5 separate regions of the Homo sapiens genome follow, and regions 2, 3, 4 and 5 are each linked to region 1. Evidence: fine-mapped expression QTL. A gene starts in region 1. Each other region holds a variant in brackets. All regions are shown on one strand. Distances are between the middles of the regions.

Region 1 (5,106 bases):
TGTTGTTATTTTGAGACAGAGTCTCACTCTGTCGCCCAGGCTGGAGTGCAGTGGCACGATCTCGGCTCACTGCGGCATCTGCCTCCTGGGTTCAAGCGATTCTCCTGCCTCAGCCTCCCGAGTAGTTGGGACTACAGGCGCGTGCCATCACGCCCGGCTAATTTTTTGTATTTTTTAGTAGAGACAGGGTTTCACCGTTAGCCAGAATGGTCGCGATCTCCTGACCTCATGATCCGCTGGCCTCGGCCTCCCAAAGTGCTGGGATTACAGGCATGAGCCACCGCGCACGGCCAAAGATTCAGTTTTAATGTGAATAAATAAACAGTAAAAGAACACTATCTCAGCATAAGCACTGGTATGCTATTTATAAATGTAAGAGGATTTTTTTTTTATTAGGGAGTTTTTTGGAAAGCTTTTTCAGTTTGGTGTAAATAGTGGTCAAAATGAATCACTGAAAGGGAAAGAAAAGGCATCAGTCATCATGCTCTACTTGAGCAGATACATGATGTTCGAATCAGTGTTCTCCCCTTAACTAGAAATCCTACTTGTGGTTAAGGGATTTAAGACATTTTACTCATTCAGCAAATACTTCTTCAATTCTTATTGCCAAAAACTGTACTGACAACTTGGGAAAATTATATTGAGAGAACCAGGGTTTTGAATGAACTGTACAAAGTCCTTATGTTTTTCATATTTGCTTAAAATAAATAAGTAAATTTGAGATATAAAAGTCTATCAGTATTTTTAATGCATCTCTTACATACTAGAAATTTCAGGATCTTCTCACAATTCAAATGTGTTTGTAATTTTCTTGTACATAATATGCATAATTGTAAGTTCTTTTCCCCTTTTCTTCATTCAAGGTTTTTTTTCTGATTATATGGTCCTAGAAATGCACTGTTTAAATATTTGGGCTGGAAAAAACTTTGAGTAGCATTTATTTAATACAGTTGGCATAGCTGATTTGTCAGTTTCAAGTTTTGATTACAATGCACGGGGTCATATGTATTGTAATTCCTTGCACAATTACGTGGAGCCCTAATACAAGCTTCCAGCACCCTGGTGCACATTTCTGCTCCCTCCCTCCTGACCAGTGATGGCAGCTTGCAGTTCTAAGTCCTGAGTTTACATTCCTTAACTTCCTTTTCTGTATCCTAATTTCCTTTTCCTAAGTGCAAATGACACACTTTGGTTAGTCTGGACCCCAAATCATTTTATTTCAGGAAAAAGTGTGCAATAAATCTATGCATAATAGAGTTTTTATATTCGGATAACTCAGGAGTTGCTGGACAAACACCCCCCAGCTGTACACATGAGTTGCTCAGATCATTCTAGAATATCCTAGAGATCAGAGGTGGGTGATCTTGAGGAGCCAGGATTCTTGCTGCTACTCAGTGGAGTTAAATGCACGTGTGAGCTCCTCTCAATATAGCCTGTTGAGCCTAAACTGCATAGTGAGACTAGACTCAAAGATTTAGTTAACATTTCCTGAGTTCCTACTGTGTGCCCAGCATTGTTGACAGAAAAAATAATCAGTAGCCTCAAGGAATTCACTCCACAGGGTGCGAGGGCAGTCTGTATGCCAGTGCCACCGACGGCAGAACTGTGCACAGTGTGCTACGAACACCTGACAGCAGACACCTCCAGCTGGGAAAACCAGTTTTCCTGACTCCAACTCCACACAAACAGAATCACCAGGCCCAGCTCAGGGCACCCTGTCCTCGATAACACTTAACTAGGTGTGATTAGTCACGTTATTAGTTGTTGATATCTCTGCCCTCCACTAGAATGTAAGCTCCATAAGGACAGGGAATGTGTTTTATTCCCCCTCTATTTTCTCATTGCTGTTTCAATATGCTTGGCACTTAGCAGGCCTGCCATAAATACTTGTTTTTTGGATGGATAAATGTGAAAATAAATGAGAGAGACATTCAGCCTGGCTTTAAGGAGAAATTAACGTGTTTAGTGTATGAGGTTGGGCATCACCGGTAATAATTAGAATGGAAACCACTTGGCAGTTTATCAGAAAAGGGGAGTATTTAGGTGAAGGTGGCAAGGAGGGAGAGAAAGGAGAATGGCTTTTAAAGACAGTCGCTAACTGCTGGGGTAGGGTGGGGGCGGGGAAGAGTTCAGATGTGTTTCAAAGAACTTTGGGGGTTTTTTAAACATTTCTTTTGTAAGTTGGTTCTTTACCTAACTGAATTATTTTGGGAACAGTGATTGGCTCTATCTTAAAGATATAGCGGTTTCTGTTACTTCTTTTTTTTCTTATATTTTCTAAGCGTCAAAGCTACTGGAACTCCGCTTCCTAAAATGCTGGGAAGGAAAGGGTGTGAAAATGCCAGATGCCCCCGCCAGCACAGGCTGGGCTGCCTGGAAAGCCGATTCCCACTCCGACTCGCCCTCGTGGTGCGGGGAGGGACGCGTAGTTGTGTCCCGCGCTCTGACTGGCTGCGTTGGGACGCGGGGGCGTGTCTTGGGGGGGCGGGGGTTGGCGGTCATCTCCCGAGCCCTGATTGGCCATGGGCGAAGGGACTGATGGCCTGGTTGGCGCTGCTGAGAACTGTCGGGAGCTTCTTGAGACCGAGGACCGAAATCCCGGCTCCAGGCCTCGGGGACTGCGGACTGTGGGGAGGCTGGCCGGAGAGAGAGGGAAGGACGGGGCCTGGCCCCCGGGACTCCCTGTGCCTTGCTTGGAGCTGACGCCGACGGGTGAGTCGCCCCCTTCCTCTGCTCCTGGGCGTGTTCCTCACCAGCGGCGCCGCAGCGGTCAGGGCCCGCAAAACCCCACGCCTCGCCAGACGCTCAGCTCAGCCTGCCGGGTTTCTCTGGAAAAGCGGAGGCCCCACAGTGAATGTGCGGCCTTTTGATCGGTCCTGGAGATCTTCCGTGGACCCTCGTTTTTCCTTGCTTATAAACGTTGGTCAATTTGAAACTGGCAGCAGGGCATATGTGTTACGAAAGAAGAACTTTATTGAAACCAGTGGTGGTGTAGAGAAGACCATACTAACCATAACTGTGTATTACAGAAGTGAATTTCACTCCCCAAAAATGCTTAAGAAACAAGCATCCTAGAACAGCCCACATTGTGATTTAACAAACATTTACCAAAAGCATTGCTATATGTGGGGGCACAGGGCTAAGAGCAGGCAGGACTCTGGAGCCAACCTGTGGGGTTTGAGTCCAAATTCTGCCGGTTTTTTGTTTTTTGTTTTTTTTTTTAGCTGAGTAACCTTGGGCAAGTTCCTTTACCTGCGTCTGTTTCCTCATTTTAAAATGAGTTGTTGTGATGATTTAATGATTTAGTATATGTGAAGAGTTTTCTGCATATTCTAAGTGATTTATGGTATTAACTCGTTTGATCTTTGCAGTCACCCAGGAGATAGTATCACCATTTTCCTGATGCCAAACTGAGGCTCAGAGAGGTGAAGTAACTTCTTCAAGTCACAACACAACTGTTGTCCAGGAATCAGGCAGTCTGGCTCTGCTAACCCAGTTTTACCCACTGCATTAATGTACCGCATCCACTTGTTCACTCAGTTTCACCTGACAAATACTAATTTTGTCTCTCTGTGGAACAAGTTCTTTGCTGGGTGCAGGGAATAAAGCAGAACACCGTTCAGTTCCTGCCTTCCCAACGCTTGTAAATCTAGTGCAGGTCATTCATGGCCGGGCTGCAGGGTGTCCATGAATCCTGCTAAAATCATTTGCGAAATGTTGTGAGCGTGGGTCTTTTCTTCTGGAAAGAGAGTCTGTGACTCTCAGGTTCTGAGTTGATCTGTGATCCAAACAGAGGTGTGAAGAAGTGTTGTTTTAGCAGATCTGTGCCTAGTATGCCTGATACACAGCTTGAACTTCAAACAAACAGCAACAAAATTCCTACTGGTTGGAAGAATGAAGAACTTGTAAGAGCATAATAAGTGCTGCAGTAGCGTCCGGAGCAGGGTGCTGTGGAAGAGCACACAGAAGGCCACCTGCCCAGGAATGCCTCCTAGAGGCAGTGAAGGCAGCTGGGTGAAGGATAGGGAAGCAGTTCATTGGAACACTGTGGTGACCAGTCTGTCCATGTAGTGTTGAGACAGAAACAACACGTGAACAGCTGCAGCTGTTGTACCACTTGTGCGCAAGTGTAAAAGTCCATGGTGCCATGAAATCATGTAATGGGGACAGGAGGCTTCATGTATTCGTGAAGGTTAGAAAAGTTTCCTTGAGAAAGTGACACTTAGGCCTAAAAGTTGGAGCATTTTGGGCATGGAATCTGGCCCACAGTCTTCAAAGACCACATGGTAGAAACCAGTAGAGCACCAGGGACTGACAGGAAGCAAATGCAGCTGGTGCAGGAGAGGGAAATGGGAATTAGGGTGGTGGCAGAGCCCAAAGAGGCCTTGTAGGCCATGGTAAGGCATTTCTATGTTTTATTTTACTTTGTCTTTATCCTAAAATGCCATTGGCAAGTTTATTGCAGGGAACTGACAAGATCACATTTTGAGAAGAAGTTGGAAAGAATCCCAAGTGGATGAACTGAATATCTGGATGAGGACAAGATCTGTGGGGAGAGACTGTAAGGTAAGAAGAAGAGAGGTCTAGAACCAAGCCTTGAAGGTGAGCTTGTATGGGAGACAGATAGAGGGTGGCGAGAAGTATAGAAAGGGAGAAGAATCAAAAAAAGTCGAGTGTCCAGGAAGTCAAATGAGAGAATATTTCAAGGAGAAAGTGGTCAACTCTGCTAAAAGCTGCAGAAGTCAAAAGAGATAAGGAAGGCTGGGTGTGGTGGCTCATGGCTTGTATTAGTCCTTTTTCATGCTGCTGATAAAGACATAGCCAAGACTGGGCAATTTACAAAAGCAAGAGGTTTAATGGACTTACAGTGCCACGTGGTTGGGGAGACCTCACAATCATGGCGGAAGGTGAAAGGCACATCTCACATCGTGGCAGACAAGAAAAGAGTGAGAGCCAAGCGAAAGGGGTTTCCCCTTATAAAACCATCAGATCTCATGAGACTTATTCACTGTCATGAGAACAGTATGGGGGAAACCACCCCTATGATTTAATTATCTCCCACTGGGTTCCTCCCACAACACAAGGGAATTATGGGAGCTACAATTC
Region 2 (5,106 bases), 680 kb before region 1:
TTCAACAGAAAACACTATCTGAGCTTTTCCCTTCCTCAAACAAAATATTTAATGTATGAAAGCAAGTCCTTTGAAGTGCCAAAAATGCAGTCGTTCCCTTCACAAGTAAACAAAATAATGAGTAATTATGGATTAAAATCCTACCACTTTTTCTTCTTCCCCACCCACTCATTCCCCATAGCATACAACTGAGAAGTATCAGGGTCACCCAGCAGCCATTTTGAACCAGATACTCCAGCGTCCCTCTCCATTATCAAAGTGTTGTGAAGTGAACAGGGAAGGGGCAGCAGCTTTGATTATTCCCTTGTTGATTCTCCTGGGTGTCCCTGCCACCCCAGGGGGCTCTGTGAGTGCAGAGAGAAGCCTCGAAGCATAGTCTGAAAATAAACAGGAATCTTTTCTTTTCCTTCTGCCGCCAACCCTGAAGGAAACAGGACAAAGAAAAGGGATGAGGTCACCTTTGGTTACCTTTGGTTAATGCCATTGCACAGGAGTGGGTCTCTCATTTATATTAGGGCATCAGTAAATACCCGTGAAATAAATAAACTTGATTTAGATAAACAACAGACCAGGGAAAAGTAAGGTAGAGTGAGGTTATGTGTGAGTAATTCCTTAGCTTAATTCAGACTGTTAGAGCCCTCCACCTAGGAAGACAGGATTACATTTATTTATTTTTAAAATTATACTTTAAGTTCTAGGGTACACGTGCAGAACATGCAGGTTCGTTACATAGGTACACATGTGCCATGTTGGTGTGCTGCACCCATTAACTTGTCATTTACATTAGGTATATCTCCTAATGCTATCCCTCCCCCCTCCCCCCACCCCACGACAGGCCCCAGTGTCTGATGTTCTCCTTCCTGTGATTTGCTGCACCCATCAACCTGTCATCTAGGTTTTAAGCCCCGAATGCATTAGATATTTGTCCTAATGCTTTCCCTCCCCTTGCTCCCACCCCCCGACAGGCCCTGGTGTGTGATGTTCCCTTTGCTGTGTCCATGTGTTCTCATTGTTCATCTCTCACTTATGAGTGAGAACATGCGGTGTTTGGTTTTGGAAGATAGAATTTCAAATGATTTTTTTTCAGATGCATTGTGAAAACGTCTCCCCTGGGTCAGAAAGAAAGGCTCGTAATAACCCTCAAGGTTGAGACTCCAGAAAGGCCAGGTGACAGAACAAGTGTCACAGGTTGGCCTGGCAGCAGAAAGGGTTTGAGATGAATCTCTGACTTCCAGACTGCACACCTTTGCTACTCAAAGTGAGGTCCCTGGACCAGCAGCAGCAGCAGCAGCGCTGGGATGCTTGTTAGAAACAATGAATTTCAAGCCCCACCCCAGCCCCATGGAGTCATTTTAACAAATTCGAGAAGCACTGCCCTACACCATCAGTGAGATGTCTAGAAGTCATCAATTACAGAAAGACCTAGTTTGGGAGCAGCCTGGACAACATAGTATGACCTAATCTCTACAAAAAATAAAAAAATTAGCCAGGCGTGGAGGCTTCCACCTGTGGCTACTCTGGAGGCTGAGGTTGGAGGATAGCTTGAGCCTGGGGAGGTTGAGGCTGCAGTGAGCCGTGACCACGCCACTGTAATCCAGCCTGGGTGACAGAGAAAGCCCCTGTCTCTCTCTGGTTAAAAGGTGACAGGATACCGGGGAATGCTACTCATCAATGAAAAGGAACAAGCATTCCATACGTGCAGGCTCCTTGGATGGGTCTCTGAGGCATTCTGCTGGGTGCAAAAAGCCAGTCTCGCCGTTTGAGGTGCTAACACCCGTAATCCCAGCATTTTGGGAGGCTGAGGCAGACAGATTGCTTGAGCTCGGGAGTTTGAGACCAGTCCTGGCAACATAGCGAGACCCTGTCTCTACAGAAAATTTTTTTAAAAAGTGATCTGGTAGTGGTGGTGCATGCCTGTTGTCCCGCTACTCAGGATACTGAGGTGGGAGGATTGCTTGAGCCCAGGAGTTTGACACCAGCCTGGGCAACATGGTAAAATCCCTATCTCTACAAAAATAAATAAATAAATAAATAAAAATTAGCTGGGCATGGTGGCTCATGTCTGTGGTTCCAGCTACTTGGGAGACTGAGTCGGGAGGATTCTTGAGCCTGGGAGGCGGAGGTTGCAGTGAGTTGAAATCACACCACTGCACTCCAGCCTGCGCGACAGAATGAAACCGTGTGTCAATAATAATAATAATAATAAAAACACCAATCTCCAAAGGCTGCTTACTATATGGTCTCATTTACATAACATTCTTGAAATAACAAAACTATAGAGATGGAAAACAGATTAATGGTTGCCAGGGGTTTGGGATGAAGTTGGTGGAGGAAGGGCCAGAGTGATTCCAAAGGGGTAGCATGAGGGAGATCTTTGCGGTGAGGGAAGAGTGACAGTGGTGGTGGTTACACGAATCCACACGTGGCAAGATGTCACAGAACCATACACACACATTGTAGCGATGTCAACTTCCTGGTTTGGATATTGTACTAAATTTATCTAAGATGTTACCATTGGGTTACTCTGTACTATCTTTGCAACTTCCTGCGAATCTGTAATTGTTTCAAAATAAAAAGTGAAAAAAAAAAA[C/A]CCCAAACCAAAAAGGAGATGGTAGTCATGTAGCAATGATCTAGAGAGATGCCATCTTCATGGTGAGATAGGTGAAGCCTCATTCTAACGCTTTTATCTGGTTTCCTGCTGGGAGCCTGTTTTGCTGAAGGCATCATTGTGAAATGATGAAAAAGGTCCCTTTTGCTAAATCCTCCTGGATGCAATCTGGAATGTTCTATTACACAAAATGATGTTCTCACAAGGTTCTAATATAGGAGTGTGGTAAGGAGAGTGTGACAGGTTCCAGTCTAGGCCCACAGGACATCAAGTCAGAAGGAGTTGAGGAAACAGGTCCAGATGGAGAAGAGGCCTGGCCAAGGTCACCCAGGTAGCAGATGACAGATTCAGGGTCAGGGGTGAGATGTGGTGCCCAGCACAGAGCCCCTCCATTGTACCAATCAGCCTCTTCCCTTTGTAGCTCTTCATCCCAGAGGTTTTCCGTAGCATTAAAATTCAGAACTCATCTGAAGGTTAGCTCTGAAAAGCAACATCCAAAGAACGCACCAATGACATCAGGGCATGTCTTCTAATTGCCTATTCACGCAGACAGATTGTCTTTTCAGATTCAGGGCTAAACTTGGAGATGTGTCCTTTCACAGGGCACTCGTTATCTGCCTGCCTCATCAGTGATGGGAACTAAAGCGCAATGTGATTGCTGAGTATGAGTTCTATTTTTTTCTGCCAAGCAGGAAGTTCAAAATCTGTTGGGTTATTTTTAAAGAGGGTGGAAAAAATAGGCATCATAGCAGCTTCTGCAATGGCCCCGGCCAAAGGCACGTGCTGCTTTATTCAAGGCATTGGCTAGGCTGGGAGGAACAGAGGTGACGTGAAGTTCCACCAGGGAGGTTTCTTGGTGGAGGGGTGGGGGATGAGTGTCCACACACTCAAGTGGCAGCACAGGGCATATGGGTTTGCCTACTAACTTGATGAGGACAGCAGTCCCAGATTTTTCTGGAGGGATATCTAGCAGTTTGTTTCATTTGGGGGTTTGTGGCTACCCTCTCCCTCTCCACAGAGCTGTGGTCCTCAAGCCCTGGACTGAGAGTTGGCTCTGGCGGGCGTGGGCCCTGCTCAGCCATTTGTGGGGTCTTGGACCTTAGACACACACCATGGGAGTCTCGTGTCATCCAAGTCACACATGTGAATCTCACATTCCTGTGTAGACAAGAAATTTGGAAGAGTGAATCCCTGCAACTCTAATCTTTTGAAAATATGATGTTTATAAGAAAGGAAATCCAGGTGTACTTGGCTTCCATTTGCAAACATTTCTTGATTACTTTGTGTGAAGCACTGTGCTAGGAACTAGAATCACAAAAGAGCTCAGTTTGGGGGGAATTTCCCTATACTCCTCGGAATAAGTAGCAAAACCCTAGAGAATCACAAATCACCATGGGAACCGCTGCTGTAGAAAGTTCTAGAAATGAAGGCAAAGTCATTAGCCTTCCTTTCCTTGTATGAATCATCAATTTCCCCTTCCTTCTGCTCAGTCTTAGAAGTTTAGAAAAGCCTTTTCCCTGCTACTAACAGTGTGGGACTCGTACAAAATATCTCCTTTAATCCTCCCAACACCACTATTCACTAGTTATAGGTTTTTGTTTTTTGTTTTTTTTCCTTTTTGAGACGGAGTCTTGCTCTGTTGCCCAGGCTGGAGTGCAGTGGCACAATCTTGGTTCACTGCAACCTCTGCCTCCCAGGTTCAACCGATTCTCCTGCCTCAGCCTCCTGAGTAGCTGGGATTGCAGGTGCCTGCCACCACGCCCCGTTAATTTTTGTATTTTTTAGTAGAGATGGGGTTTTGCCATGTTGGCCAGGCTGGTCTTGAACTGCTGATCTCAAGTGATCTGCCCACCTTGGCCTCCCAAAGTGTTGAGATTACAGGCGTGAGCCACAGCGGCCGGCCACTAGTTATAGTTAAACCCATTTTTTTTTTTTTGAAAGAGGAAGGTGAATACTAGATAGAGTAAGTAACTTGTCCAAAGTCTCAAAGCTAGTCAGGGGTTGGATCCAGTTGGAACAGGGTTTTCACGTCTGTGCTGGAGTCCAGGGCTCAGCAATCAGTGCTGCCAACAGAAGGTGCGCAATAGATGTCTCCCTGAGTGGAGAAACCCAGGAAACTGCTGGCCTTGGAGACTGTGTAGGGGCTAGGCAGAAAGAACTAGAAGCGGGAGGATGTGAGCACTTCTGCGACTATTCATTCGTCTGTGACTGAAGGTGGGGGTGGAGGGAGGTGGGTGCTGAATTCTGAAGGCAGAGGACCCAAGACTCGTGAAATAGATTTTCTCAAAGAACCCTTTATCCGCACAGTCTGATGTTGGCAAAACACTGTGTGATGAAAGTCTTGGTATGACAACATACAGTCGGATAGCACTTTTTGCCAAGGGCTTTACAGGAAGAAACAATGTGAGATCCAAAAGCAGAATCGCAGAACGGGGAACACAGAACAAAAGCAGAATCACAGAATCTCAGTGCAGAGGAGGTCCCAGAGCTCCTCCTCC
Region 3 (5,106 bases), 23 kb before region 1:
GATGACAAAGTACGTTTGTCTGTGAGCAGTGATATTTTTAAAGGAGTCTTTCTTTCTGAGTAGTAGGTCTCAACAGAGAGCTTAAAATATGTATAAACCATGTTGTAAACACATGTGCTGTCATCCAGGCTTTGTTGTTCCTGTTCTGCACAGGCAGAGTAGATTTAGCATAGTTCTCAAGGGACCTAGGAGTTTTAGAATGGGCAATGAGAATTGGCTTCAACTTAAAGTCACCAGCTATGTTAGCCCCTCACAAGAAAGTCAGCCTGTCCTTTGAAGCTTTGAAGCTAGGCATTGACTTTTTCTTCTTTTTTTATTTTTGAGACGGAGTCTTCCTCTGTCACCCACGCTGCAGTGCAGTGGCACGATCTTGGCTCACTGCAGCCTTCGCCTCCTGGGCTCAATTGATTCTCCTGCCTCAGCCTCCTGAGTAGCTTGGACTGCAGGCGTGCACCACCATGCCCGGCTAAATTTTGTATTTTTAGTAGAGACAGGGTTTCACCATGTTGGCCAGACTGGTCTCGAACTCCTGACCTCAAGCATCTGCCTGCCTCAGCTTCCCAAAGTGCTGGGATTACAGGCATGAGCCACAGTGCCTGGCCTGGCATTGACTTTTTCTGTCTAGCTATGAAAGTCCTAGATGACATCTTCTTCCAATAGAAGGCTGCTTCATCAACACTGAAAATCTGTAGTTTAGTGTAGCCACCTTAATTCATTATCTTAGATAGATCTGGATAACTTGCTACTTCTCCACCCAGCACTTGTTGCTTCACTTTGTACTTTTAGGTTATGGAGACAGCTTCTTTGCTTAAACCTTATGAACCAACCTCTGCTAGCTTCCAACTTTCCTTCTGCAGCTTCCTCACCTCTCTCAGCCTTCACAGAATCGAAGAGTGTTAGGGCCTCTCTCTGGATTAGGACTATGCTTTAAGGGAGTATTGTATCTGGTTTGATCTTCTATCCAGACCCCTAAAGTTTTCTCCATATCGCCATTAAGGCTGCTTTGTTTTTTTTTATGATTCATGTGTTCATTGGAGTAGCACTTTTAATTTCCTTCAAGAACTTTTCCTTTGTTTAGACATCTTGGCTAACTGGTGCAAATGGCCTAGCTTTTGGCCTGCCTCAGCTTTCTTTTTTGTTTTTTTTTTTTGTTTGTTTTTTGAGACAGAGTCTTGCCCTGTTGCCCAGGCTGGAGTGCAATGGCTCGATCTCAGCTCACTGCAAACTCCGCTTTCCGGGTTCAAACGATTCTCCTGCCTCAGCCTCCCGAGTAGCTGGGATTACAGGCACATGCCACCATGCCCAGTTTTTGTTTGTTTGTTTGTTTTTAGTAGAGACAGGGTTTTACCATGTTGCCAGGCTGGTCTGGAACTCCTGACCTCGTGATCCGCCCGCCTTGGCCTCCCAAAGTGCTGGGATTACATGCGTGAGCCACTGCGCCCAGCCTGGCCTGTCTCACCTTTCAACATGCCTTCCTCACTAAGCTTATTTCTAGCTTTTGGTTGAAAGTGAGAGATGTGTGACTCCTCGTTTCACTTGAACACTTAGAGACCATTGTAGGGTTACTAACTGGCCTAATTTCAATATTGTTGTCTCAGGGAATAAGGAGGCCTGAGGAGAGGGAGAGAGGGTGAAAGAGATGGGGGAAAGGCTGGGTAGGGCAGACAGACCACACTACATTTATCAGTTAAGTTCACCCTCTTTTATGGGTGCAATTCATGGCACCCCAAAACAATTACAATAGTAGCATCAGAGATCTCTGATAAAAGCTGGGTGTAGTGACTGGTACCTGTAGTGCCAGCTACTCAGGAGGCTGAAATGGGAGGATCACTTGAGGCCAGGAGTTCAAGACCAGCCTGGGTGATACAGTGAAACCACGTCTCTTAAAAAAAAAGAGAAGAGATCACAGGTCATCATAACAGATATAATAATGAAAAAGTTTGAAATACTGTGAGAATTGATAAAATGTGACACAGAGACACGAGGTGAGCACATG[C/T]TTTTGGGAAAATGGCACCAATAGAATTGCTTAGTGCAGGGTTGCCGTTAGCCTTTGATTTATAAAATGCACAATATCTGAGAAGTGCAATAAATAGCAAAGCACAATAAAATGAGTTGCCCTTGTAAATTTTTCATGTTCAAATTGCTGATGTGATTTTTGTCTCCTGTTAGTCAACAAAGCCAAAAACGGGTTCTTTGAAAACATTAATAAAATTGATAAACTCTTAATACTGATTCGGACAAAAAAGAAAGAAAATACAAGTTACCTATATCAGGAATAAGAAAGAGGACATCACTAGAGATTCTCCAGACTTTAAAAGCATAGTAAAGAATATCGTAAACACTATACTGTCAATAAATTATATATCTGAGATGAAAAAATTTCTTGAAAGGTATAATTTACTAGAACTCTCATAAGAAGAAAAAGAAAACCTGAATAGCCCTATATCTCTTAAATAAATTGAATTTGTAATTAAAAACCTTCCCATAAACAAACTTCAAGCCCTTAGATGGCTTTATTTTGAGTTATATCACACATTTAAGAAGGAAGTATTTCCTTCTTAAATTAAACTCTTTCAGAAAACAAGATTGAGATTACTTCCCAACTCATTTTATGAGGACAGCATAACCCTGATACCACAACCTGACAAGGAAAGTTTGAGAAAAAATTAAAAGTATAGCCAAGTGTCCCCCATAAACAAAGACTCAGAAATCACTAAATTGAATCTAGCAATATTTTTTATTTAAAAAAAGTTTTTTTTGTAAAGACACTATGTGGTCTCATTATATTTACCTAGGCTGAGCTCGAACTCCTGTGCTCAAGCCATCCTCCCATGTTGACTTCCCAAAGTGCTGGAATTACAGGTATGAGCCACCGTACCGGACCGTGAACCTGGAGATATAGAGATTTTATATATATATATATATATATATATATATATATATATATGTTTTTTTGTTTTTTTGTTTTTTCTGAGATGGAGTCTTGCTCTGTCGCCCAGGCTGGAGTGCAGTGGTACAACCTTGGCTCACTGCAACGTCTACCTCCCGGGTTCAAGCAATTCTCCTGCCTCAGCCTCCTGAGTAGCTGGAATTACAGGCACCCACCACCACGTCTGGCTAATTGTTGTATCTTTATTGGAGACGGGGTTTCACCATGTTGCCCAGAGTGGTCTCAAACTCCTGAGCTCAGGCTATCCGCCTGCCTCAGCCTCCCAAAGAGCTCACTGGTGTGAGCCACCGTGCCCAGCCTGCAATATTTTAAAATACTGCTACTTCAGGATCAAGTGGGGTTTATCTCATGAATACAAAGTTGGTTGAGCATTAAAAAAATCAATTAATATAACCTACTGGGTTAATAGGATAAAGGAAAAGAGAAATTATCTTAACAAATGAAGAGAACGCATCTGACATAATTCAACACCCGTGTATACTTTTTAAAAAGGTCTTTTAGCTAACTAGAAATTCTTTAAAGTGCTATATTAGTTTGTTCTCACACTGCAAATAAAGACATACCTGAGACTGGGTAATTTATAAAGGAAAGAGATGTAATTGACTCACAGTTTCACGTGACTGGGGAGGCCTCACAATCCTAGTGGAAGATGGAGGAGCAAAGGCACATGTTACATGGCAGCTGGCAAGAGAGCATGGGTAGGGGAACTGCCCTTTAAAAAAACCATCAGACCTTGTGAGACTTATTCACTATCATGAGAACAGCACGGGCGAAACCCACCCCCATGATTCAGTTACCTCCCACTGGGTCCCTCCCATGACATGTGGGGATTATGGGAGCTGCAATTCAAAATGAGATTTGGGTGGGGACACAGCCAAACCATATCAAGTGCTAAATAGCAATTTGATAAAGGAAGTCTACAAAAAAACATAAAATCTTACTTAAAGGTGAAACACTGAATGCTTTCTACCCAAGATAGGAAAAAACAAGGATATTTGCTTTTACAAATTACTTGAAGTCTAGCCAGTGCAGTCATGGAAGACAGAGTGTGGATTATTAGCTTACCACCTCATACCCCATCCCCGTATTCTTTATCATAGCATTTTTTTCCCTAATAGTTACGTATTCAGTAATTTACCTCTGTATTGCCACTCTTTCTCAATAAGCTCCAGGAGAGGGGCATCTAGCATAATATCTGTCATATAATTAGAATTATAATAAATACTTAGTGTATTACTGAATGCATTTAATTTTGGGAAACTTTCTCTTCCCTAGATTTTCATTTTTCTTTTGGAGAGATGTTCACTAATTTATCCCCAGGGAAGGAAAAGTGAATGATCTCATTGGTGAGTTTAGGAGAAGGAGCTGGGCTAGTTTAGCTGAGACGGTTCCTTTTCTTTTAGTTGTAGAGAGCACACGTTATATTCTCCTCTTCTATGTGATACGTTTTATAGGGAAAGCCCACACTGCGGGAGGTGCTGCTTATGATTGAGTAGGTAAATCTGTTTGATTCAACAGTGAAATAGTATTAGCAAGTTTACCTGCCCTGAAACCTGGTATGTTTTCTACAATTCAGCTTTGCTAATAATATGGCTGATATTTTTATCTTTAGCCCCCTGGCTTACGTGACTGAACTCAAGAAGGAAAAGGGGCAGGAAGTGTTATTTATTGACTCACTTCAGTATTTACTAAGATTTAAAATAATGTTTTTCAAAAAACAGTGCTAAATTGCACTAGGCACATTGGCTCTCGTCTGTAATCCCAGCACGTTGGGAGGCTGAGGAAGGAGGATCTCTTGAGGGCAGGATTTTGAGACTAGCTTGGGCAATACAGTGAGACCCTGTCTTTACGAAAAAAAATTAAGTTAGCTGGTTATGGTGGTGCATGCCTGTAGTCCTAGCTACTCGGGAGGTTGAGGTGGGAGAATTGCTCAAGTCCTGGAGTCTGAGGTTGCAATGAGCTATGATTGCACCATTGCACTCCAGCTTGGGCAACAGAGTGGGAGCCTAACTCTTAAAAAAAAAAAAAAAGAAGAAAAAGAGTTCCTGTCATTCATTGAGGGCTTGCTATGCATTGTGCTCTGTCCTAAACACTCTATATGCATTATGTTATTTAATTCTTTAGCAACCCAATAATATGGTTAATTTTTTCACATC
Region 4 (5,106 bases), 57 kb after region 1:
AGAGGCCTAGCTTTTGCCCTGTCTCAGCTTTTGCCATGCCTTTCTCATTATGCTTCATCATTTCTAGCTTTTGATTAAAAGTGAGAGACTTGCAACTATTCCTTTCTCTTGAACACGTAGAGGCCATCATAAGGTTATTAATTGGTTTATTTGGCCTATTAATTGGCCTACTATATACAAATGTAGTATATAAGTATATACATATGTTACATATATATACTACATATACTGTGTATATACGCATCCAGTATATATACAGGCATAACTCATTTTATTGCACTTTATTGCAATTCACAGATACTGCCTTTTTTTTTTAACAAATGAAAGGTTTGCCTGTGAAATGAAAAGACAGCCTATAGTATATACACTATATATATATATATATATATATATATATATATATATATATATATATATACAGTGTGTGTGCTTTCAAAAGCAAAATGCTATCCCTTTATCCATTTTTAACTTAATGGTAAGAATGGGTAAGAATGAGGCTACCAGGCAGAAGGTCCCAAAGGAACTTGAAAAGAATTACGATGAATAGGATAGAGACTTGTGTGGGATATAGTCTGTGGTACTGGTGGTCTACATAGGACAGAGCCCCACTGGGAAAGATGACACTGCCCTGGTGCCGGGGAGGAGGATGAGTAAGATATGGCTCTAGATGTACATGTGGCATGTTTAGAGTAGGATGCTGCCTTCTCATTTCTGGTGCCCATGGTTCGGAAACGTGGATTTTCATGGACCTAAAATACCAGTTGCAGCACGACTTGTGAGACCTGTGAAAGCACCATATGGTCTGGGAAGCTCTAGAAAGGGCATTTTTGGCATAGGATATGGCCTGTGGGGTCCAGGTGCATCACAGTTGAAGTTGGGTAAGGACCATTAGTTGGGGAGCAGGATGGTCCAGAAAGAGGAAGAGTTCTTGGGTTCCCAGAGGCAGTCCAGTGGGAGGCACAGAGGGATGCAATCCTGTTAGCAAAGGTCCGAAAGGTACAATGAAGAGTGTTGCACTTGGCGGGAGTCCAGATGGCATAGAAGGCACAGCACATGGGTTCTTCCAAGGTTTGGAATCTGGCCGGCCTTAAGGAGGTTGACTAGATTTCTATTAATCACAGCAGGACCTGGTCAGGGAAGTGTTCAGGTAGAGCATTTGCCATAGAAAATTCATCAGACATTTTCCTGGCAAGATCCTAGTCTTCAGTAGAAGTGGCAAAGGGTTTGAGACAACTGGGTGCTGAAGAATCAAAAGCAGCCTGACAGCACTAATACCAACAGCACATGGCGCCTCCTCCATCCAACTTTTTTCTGAGACAGAGTCTCACTCTATTGCCCAGGCTGGAGTGCAGTGGTGCAGTCATAGCTTACTGCAGCCTTGAACTCCTGGGCTCAAGCAATCCTCCTGCCTCAGCCTCCAAGTAGCTAGGACTACAACTCTGCATCACCATGCCTGGCTAATTTTTTTTTTTTTTTAAAGAGATGAGGGTCTTGCTATGTTGCCCATGTTGGTCTTGAACTTCTAGGATCAAGCAATCCTCCCACCTCAGCCTCCCAAAGTGCTAGAATTACAGGTGTGAGCCACCATGCCCAGCCAACTTTTGTTTTTTAATAACAGCTTTATGGAGATATAATTGACATACCAAAAGATCTATCCATTGAAAGTGTACAGTTCAGTGCTTTTTAGTATACTGTATTTACAGAGTTGTGCAAACATCACCACTATCTAATTTTAGAACATTTCTTCTCAACAAAAAGAAATCTATGCCCCTAAACAGTCACTCTGCATCCTCACTTGTATTTGTTATTTTTTGTGTTTTTGATAATACCCGTCCTAACTGGGGTGAGATGATACCTCATTGTGGTTTTGATTTGCATTTCTCTGATGATTAGTGATGTTGAGTATGTTTTCATACATTTGTTGACCATTTGTGTATCTTCTTTTGAGAAATGTTTATTCAGATCATTTGCCTATTTTAAAATCAGATTGTTTATTTTTTGCTGTTGAAATGTTTGAACTCCTTGTCTATTCTGGCTATTAACCCCTGTCATATGAATAATTTGCAAATATTTTCTCCCATTCTGTAGGTTGTTTTTTCACTCTGCTGATTGTTTCCTTTGCTGTACAGAAGATTGTTAGTTTGATATAATCCCATTTGTTTGTTTTTGCTTTTGTTGCCTATGCTTTTGGGGTCTTATTAGCAAAATCTGTTTCTAGACCAATGTCCTGAAGTTCCTCCCCTATGTTTTCTTCCTGTAGTTTTATAATTTTGGGTCTTATATTTAGGTCTGATCCATTTTGAGTTGATTTTTGTATATGGTGAGAGATAGGAGTCTAGTTTCATTCTGCATATGGATATTCAGTTTTTCCAGCACCATTAGTTGAAGACATTGGCCTTTCCCCAATGAGTGTTCTCAGTGCCTTTGTCAAAAATAAGTTGGCTATAGATACTTTAATTAATTTACCTGTCCTCTATTCTTTTCTATTGGTCTATGTGTCTGTTTTTATGCGAGTACTTTGCTGTTTTGGTAACCATGGCTTTGTAGTATATTTTGGAGTCTGGTAGTGTGTGATGCCTCCAGGTTTGTTCTTTTTGCTCAGGATTGCTTTGGCTATCTGGAGTCTTTTGTTCTATATAAATTTTACACTTCTTTTTCCGTTTCTGTAAACAATATCATTGGTATTTTGATAGAGATTGCATTGAATCTGTATTTTGCTTTGCGTAGTACCAAACTGCTTTTATGAAGTGCATATAACAATACCAAAACCTGGCAAAGTGAGAAGTACAGATTAATATTAATTATAAATATCAATGAAAAAAATCTCAAATAAAATAGAATCAAAGAGCATCTGGTAGCCTATTAAAAAATAATACATCATGACCAAGTAGCACTTATTTTAGGAATGCAAGTAGGATTTACATTTGAAGAATCAATAATAAAATAAAGAGGTTAGGGAGAAAAAATC[A/G]TATAATCATCTTCAAGATGCTGAAAAGATATCTGAGAAAATTTGACACTTATTGTTGATTTTAAAAGCCATTAAAGTAGAAATAGATACATGCTTGACCTGGTCAAAATACACTTGCATGTGCACACACACACACGTTGCAAAAAAAAAAACCTTCAAACCTTTTATCTATTGAGGGCATTTCCTCAATAGATATCATCAAAATGATCTATCATCACAATAAGTCAAAGAATGCCACCATACTGAAAAAAGGTATTTGTGAATGCAAGAAAACAAGAGGACAAAATTAGCGATGTAAAACTTGGAAAGGAAGAAGTACGACTCATACCATTTGCAAATATGAATACTTATAACTCCAGGAAACCAAAGAGAGTCAGCTGAAGAGATACCATAAACAAGAAGAGAATTCAGTAAGACTTCAGATAGCAACAGCCTTCACATACACAAGCAACAGCTAGTATTAATAGAAGGTATGATGGCAAATATCCCATTTATCATAGTGTAAATGAATGGATGAACAAATGAATTAATAGGGAATAAATAACAGGGAATGTTCCTATATGAAGAAAACTATACTAAACACTTTTGAAAGACATAAGACAAATAGAGAGACATACAATGAATTTGTATAGGAAGACTCAATGTTATAAAGATATCATTACTCCTTAAATTAATATATAAAATAATCACAATCTCAATAAAACTACCATCAGATTCTTTTTGCTGGAACTAGACAGGTTGATAATAAAGTTCATATGAAAGACCAAATAAGAACAAATAGGAAAATCCAGAAAAGAAGAGCAGTAACAAGTTTAATCTTATCAGATATTAAAACAAATATTATAAATCATGTATAAGTAAACTAGTAGGGTAATGGTGCATTAACAGACAGATCAACCAATGGAACAGAATGGAAAAGCCAGAAAAAGAGGCAATTGCATATGAAAATCTAGTGTATGATAAAGATGGCATCTCAAAGCAGTGGGAGAAAAATAGACTTTATGGTTTTTTAATTTTTAATTTTTGGGGTAGATAGTGACTGGCTCTGTCATCCAAGGGTGCAGTCATGCTATTATAGCTCACTGCAGCCTTGAACTCCTGGGCTCAAGTGATTTCCCTGCCTCAACCTCCTGAGTAGCTGAGACTACAGATGTGCACCACTACACCCAATTTTTAAAACATTTTTTGTAGAGATGGGGTCTATGTTGCCCAGTTTAGTATAGAACTCCTGGGCTCAAGTGAGCCTCCTGCCTCAGTCTACCAAAGTGCTAGGATTATAGACATGAGCCACTGTGTCCAGCCTGGACTTCTTAATAAATGCTGTTGGAATAATTGGTTAGCCATATGAATAAAGGTAAAATTAGACCCATTCTTCGCACTATGTACCAGGATAAGTTCCAAATGGACCAAATATTAAAATGTGAAAAATGGCATCCAGTGCTTATTTCTAAGTCCATTCTTCAAGAAAAGGATCTAGGGCTTGGAGAAGTGGCTGATTTTAGGGTTAGGGCAGGGAACATACAAAATGAGCCTGAAACATCTGTTAGTCCCAGGAAATCGAGATGTGCTCAGAGCAAAAGGATGGAGGCATGTCAAAAAGACATAGGAGCCAACACAAAAGAGCTTCCAATAGCCAAACCTGGAAGAATTTGAGCAACAAAATAAATAACATAGTATTACAATAGACCTCAAAGTATAAAATACATATCCATGCATCTATCTACAATTAATAAAGGAATAAATAAATAAATAAATAGGGAAGAAGAAACAAATGTGCCATACAGAAGAATGCCAAATAATTTAAATACGTACTTCTCCCTCAAGGAGATAGAGCTTAATTCCCTTCCCACACTTGAATATGTTCTGGGCTTCCAAACACAGGGCATGAAAAGGGGAGGAAAAATGTAACTTTATGGTGGAGAAACCTGGTAAACTCTACCTCAGCCAGATCATCAAAGTTAACATCATCAATGATAAGTCATGTTGATATCATGTGCCCTTGATGTGATTGTGATGAGAATAAAACTTGTCTCTGTGGTCTTTCAGTAGTCTGTAACCCCAGTCTGTATGTGAGAAAAACACCAAACACCAATGGAGGGATATTCTACAAAATTCATGGCCAGTATTCCTATAACTTG
Region 5 (5,106 bases), 38 kb after region 1:
TCACACCAAAGCTAGAAGGTTCCCTTTCTTTTTGTGGATCATATATAGAGTGTCTGCTAAATTGAGCCTTATTAAAAGATAGTGAAAAGAAGCACATGTTGGAATAATTGGACATCATTTTTAAAACAAAAGCTTAACACCTATAAACTCATGCCTTTCACCATATGCAAAATAATTCAAAATGGATCATAGACCTAAATGTGAAAATATAAAACTTTTAGAAGAAAACATAGGAGAACATTTTTATGATCTTGAATTAGGCAGAGTTTTCTTAGGTACAACAAAAAACACAATCCATGAAAGAAAGAAATTTATAAAAACTTGCTGTTTGGATAACACTTGCTCTTTGGATGTCACTTAAGAAAACAAAAGAACAAGCAACAGACTGGGAGAAAATATTTGCAAAACATACCTTTTTTTTTTTTTTCTTTGAGACGGAGTCTCGCACTGTCACCCAGGCTGAAGTGCAGTGCACAATCTCGGCTCACTGCAAGCTCTGCCTCCTGGATTCACGCCATTCTCCTACCTTAGCCTCCCGAATAGCTGGGACTGCAGGCGCCTGCCACCATGCCCAGCTAATTTTCGTTTGTTTGTTTGTTTGTTTGTTTTTTAGTAGAGACGGGGTTTCACTATGTTAGCCAGGATGGTCTCCATCTCCCGACCTCATGATCCGCCTGCCTCAGCCTCCTAAAGTGCTGGGATTACAAGCGTGAGCCACCGCTCCCAGCCAAAACATACCTATTAAGTGACTGTATTCTGAATATGTGAAACAATCTTACAACTCAGAAGACAATCCAGTTTTAAAATGTGTGAATAATTGAACAATCACTTTACCAAAGGAGATACATGGATGGCAAATAAGCATATGAAAAGATGCGCAACCCCTCCCACCCCGAGGCAACCTCTCATCTGTTTTCTCTCCTTATGGTTTTGCCTTTTCCAGAATGTCATATAAATGGAATACAGTATGAAGCATTTTTAGTCTTGCATCTTTCACTTAGAATAATGGATTTGAGATGTATTTATGTTGTGTGTAGGAGTAGTTTGTTCCTTTTGTTGCTGTAGTCTATTTACTATAGTAGTCATTAGGGAAATGCAAATCAAAGCCACAGTGATCACTACTTGGTTGAAATAAAAATAATTTCAAAAGCTATTGATGATGGACAGAAACTAAAACTCTCAGATGTTGTTGGTGGGAATGCAGAGGGGTACATACACTTGGGAAATGGTTTGGGAGTTTCCTATAAAGTTATGCATACACTTGTGATATGACCTAGAAATCCTACTCCTAGATATTTACCCAAGAGAAATGAAAACATGTTCACACAAAAACCTGAACATATTTTATAATCATCTAAAACTAGAAACACCCTAAATGCCCTTTAATTTGTGAATGGATAAGCAAACCGTGGTACATATATACAATAGAATCTACTCAGCATATAAAAGGAACAAACTGCTCCTACACACAAATAAATCTCAAGTGCATTATTCTAAGTGAGAGATGCAAGATTAAAAAGTCTTCATACTGTATTCCATTTATATGACATTCTGGAAAAGGCAAAACCATAAAAAGAGAAAAGAGATCAGTGGTTGCCTGTGAGGTGAGAGGAGTTGACTATAAAGTGGAGCTTAAGAGAATTGGGGAGGGGTAATGGAACTGTTGGATATCTTGACTGTGATGTGTGTGGGTTACAGAATGTATGCATCTGCCAAAACTCATAGATTTGTACACTAAATAGAGCAGTTTTGCTGTGTGTAAATTATACCTTAATAATTTTGACTTGAAAAAGAAAGATGTTGGAATGGGAAAAAAGAGTTGTGATGAGGTAGAGCTACCTGACACCATGAATATGAAGACTGGCCCAAAGGTGAGCAGCCTCTTA[T/C]ACTCCTAATGGGCAGCACTTCACAGTAGTTTCAGTAATACAACCTGAGTTTAAAGATGTTCAATTTGTTCTTATGTTTTTGCCTAATTGCTTACCATACTTGACCACTGTTGGCTAGTTTCTTCTCTCAAGTGCCCTTACCTCTACAGTAACCAGTAGAGCAACTTCAGTACCCAGTTTGAGTCTGGTTTCTACCCTTGGTTCTATCCTTGATACAGTTTGGCTGTATCCCCACCCAAATCTCATCTTGAATTGTAGTTCCCATAATCTCTATGTGTTGTGGGAGGGACCTGGTGGGAGGTAATTGAATCATGGGGGCTGTTACCCCCATACTGTTCTTATGATAGTGAGTGAGTTCTCATGAGATCTGGTGGTTTTATAAAGGGACTTTTCCTCCTTTGCTCGGCACTTCTCCTTCCTGCCGCCATGTGAAGAGGGACATGTGCACATTAAGCATTTAAAGATCGTTAAAGGGTAATACAAATAAAGGCCAAATTGAGTAAAAAAAGAGGACTGAATGAGTGCAGAAAAGATAGATATGGATGTGGGCTGAAGAAAGCTTCTGCAGCAGGGAGAGGAGGGAAGTTATATTTTAATAAGAATTGAATACCTACTTTTTTAAGGACGTCAGCATGATACTTATAAATTATGAGAGCGGAATCATTACTATTTTCTACCTGCATCCAGTATAGATGTTAGGACTAGGGAGAGGACTAATGATAAGCTTCCATTTCACCTTGGAGCAAGGCACCCAAAGTGGTGGCAGAGCCCACACAGCATAATTTATGCCTTATCGATGGTAAAAAGTTAAATGGGGATTGGTGAAGATAGACAAGGTGGAGCTTTAAAAAGATAGAATAGAGCAGCCCAAAGCTGAACAATAGGGTCTTTATTGTCATCTGCAATAGCCAGGTTGAAAGAACATGTACATTTACCATGAGAAGGGAGATTTACCAAGTTGACATTTTCAACGTGACCCCAGAATGCAATATGGTTTGACTAGGATTTATGTGAATTACAGTAAGAGAGCCTCTCAACTTGGCCTGCTTTTGGAAACAATGGCCCACCCCATGGTTTAGGTAATGCTGTATGCATTCTGAGGGAGGTGGTCCGTCATTTACAGATGAAGAAAAGGCTGAGGGCATAAAAACATCTTAAGTCTTCTGCAACCAGGGTAGATGGAATTCTAACTTGAAACACTAATTTCAGTTTGCAAATGCAAATGAGTTCTAAGAGAGGGAGAAACTGTTTTAGGGGACCATTTGAAATCTGTCCTTCATATTCACATTGAATGTAAGGGAAATAGCCACCAATCCTCAGAGTGTGAAGGAGCCAACATTAATCTCTTCCTAGATCTAAAACTGCCAAATTAAAATTTGTATCAGTGACTACTTGACCCACTTTCCTTTCTTGCTTTCAGGGCACATCCTTACATGAGCCTAATCACTTATTTGCCAAGAGAATAATTAACGTTTTAGAGTCGCTGTGCTAGTTAATAGTGTAAGACAAAAATAAAATTCTTAGCCCCCTAACCATCTGAACAAACCCCTCCTCAGCCAAGGGCATTCCAAAGTTAACCTGAAAAACTAGTTCAGGCCAGGATGGGAAGTGGTTGTTGGACATGCCTCACACCTGACCAGCATTAACATCAACACAGAGATTTTCAGACTGACAGAAGAGACTCTTTAATAAGAAACATTTACAATCTATTACCTCTGAAGCCTGCTTCCTAGAGGCTTTATCTACATACTACAACCTGGTCTCCACAACTCCTTATCATAACCCAGACATTCCTTTCTATCAATACCAGGTCTTTAGACAATAATCAATTGCCAATCAGAAAATCTTTGAATCTGCCTATGACCTGGAAGTCCTCTCACCCCCCATACCTGCTTTCAGTTGTCCCGCCTTTGTGGCTGAAACAATGTACATCTTACATGTATTGATTGATGTCTTATGTCTCCCTGAAATGTATAAAACCAAGTTGTAGCCCAACCACTTTGGGCACATGTTCTCAGGATCTCCTGAGGGCTGTGTCATGGGCCATTGGTCACTCATTTGGCTCAGAATAAATCTCTTCAAATAATTTACAGAGTTTGGCTCTTTCACTTACAATAATTTGGCACCTAACATCAGGCCTCAGAGAAGACTCAGAGCCCTGAAGGAATTGGCTGAACTTGGAGCTAAGGTACCAGCAGGGGCCCAATGATAGTTCTCCCCAACTTTGAGCATTTCCTCCAGTGGAATTGTTAGGTCCTTCTGAGCACTGGACCTCCCATTTGGCTGATGGTCCTTGATTTATTCTTGAGTTTTTTTTTTTTTTCCTCCTAGAAAGTTATTTGGGATCCCTGTCTAGTTCGGAGGTGCATTCTAAAGGTGTTCTCCATTGCCTTTTTCTAAAGACAAGGAGAAGGACCCCTTTTTGGGCACCTCATTTGGTTTCCGGTTTGGAGGTGCATTCTAAGAAGTCTTCTCCGTTGCTTTTTCTTCCAAAATTAAGCTCAATTGGTTTGTCTGTGCATTTGTGTGAGGAACTGAACTGTTATTTTCATAGATAAATGAGACTGAGGTCCTCAGCTCTGAAGAAAAAGGGCATTTTGTTCCTCCCAGCTGAAAGGTGCTCCTGGGTGACTGGGGACGAAGTAAAAGTGTCTGGGGGTTGACTTCCTGAGACGTGCAATGGCCCTACAGGGAACCCCCAAGAAAATTAGTTTAGAAAGGCTCTTCCAGGAAACACATATAAGAGCTGATCACTTGGCATTTTGAGCCCTCTTGGAGGTAATAGAATTCCAGAGAGAGAAACAGACATCTAAGAGGGCAGAAACAATTCAGTGGTGGAACACTGTAGAGTCCTGCTCACAGTCAGCACACATCGAGCCACCACACACACAGAAAAACCCAAATGTCTTTCAAGTTTATGTGATACAAGTAAAATATTTAATAAATAAGCTGGCTTTCAAATTATTGGTAAAGTAATATTAGAAATGTCTTAAGAATTTTCAGCATTTTTTATATTTATTGATCAAGCAGTTCCATACTTATCCCTGCCAAATACTATAAGATGTCAACATATGGCATGAGGTTTATAAAACTATAAACCCAACCCAAAACAGAATGATCTTTGCTTGTGTAATTTTTTTTATTTTTTGAGATGGAATCTTGCACTGTCACCCAGGCTGGAGTGCAGTGGTGTGATCTCGGCTCACTGCAACCTGCACCT

What was found. PIP is the estimated chance that this variant, and not a neighbour inherited with it, causes the effect. A credible set is the group of variants that fine-mapping cannot tell apart.
Region 2: its variant is the best candidate, but not a certain one, in a credible set for the expression of MTERF2 in whole blood (INTERVAL, PIP 0.61).
Region 3: its variant is the best candidate, but not a certain one, in a credible set for the expression of MTERF2 in sun-exposed skin (GTEx, PIP 0.57).
Region 4: its variant is the best candidate, but not a certain one, in a credible set for the expression of MTERF2 in whole blood (TOPMed, PIP 0.69).
Region 5: its variant is the best candidate, but not a certain one, in a credible set for the expression of MTERF2 in whole blood (TOPMed, PIP 0.64).

Annotation. Positions count from the first base shown.
Region 1 is chr12:106,984,575-106,989,680 of GRCh38, reverse strand. MTERF2 (mitochondrial transcription termination factor 2) reads left to right here and starts at 2,535. Exons shown (of 3, transcript NM_001033050.3): 1 at 2,535-2,712; 2 at 4,456-4,566.
Region 2 is chr12:107,660,930-107,666,035 of GRCh38, reverse strand. No RefSeq gene overlaps it. Among named protein-coding and RNA genes, the nearest start is that of PWP1, 22 kb to the left of the region's middle. The variant C/A (reference allele first, on the strand shown) is at 2,591.
Region 3 is chr12:107,007,405-107,012,510 of GRCh38, reverse strand. The region is part of intron 2 of CRY1 (cryptochrome circadian regulator 1); the gene reads left to right. Among named protein-coding and RNA genes, the nearest start is that of MTERF2, 23 kb to the right of the region's middle. The variant C/T (reference allele first, on the strand shown) is at 1,997.
Region 4 is chr12:106,927,641-106,932,746 of GRCh38, reverse strand. No RefSeq gene overlaps it. Among named protein-coding and RNA genes, the nearest start is that of TMEM263-DT, 25 kb to the left of the region's middle. The variant A/G (reference allele first, on the strand shown) is at 2,969.
Region 5 is chr12:106,946,554-106,951,659 of GRCh38, reverse strand. No RefSeq gene overlaps it. Among named protein-coding and RNA genes, the nearest start is that of TMEM263-DT, 6.4 kb to the left of the region's middle. The variant T/C (reference allele first, on the strand shown) is at 1,887.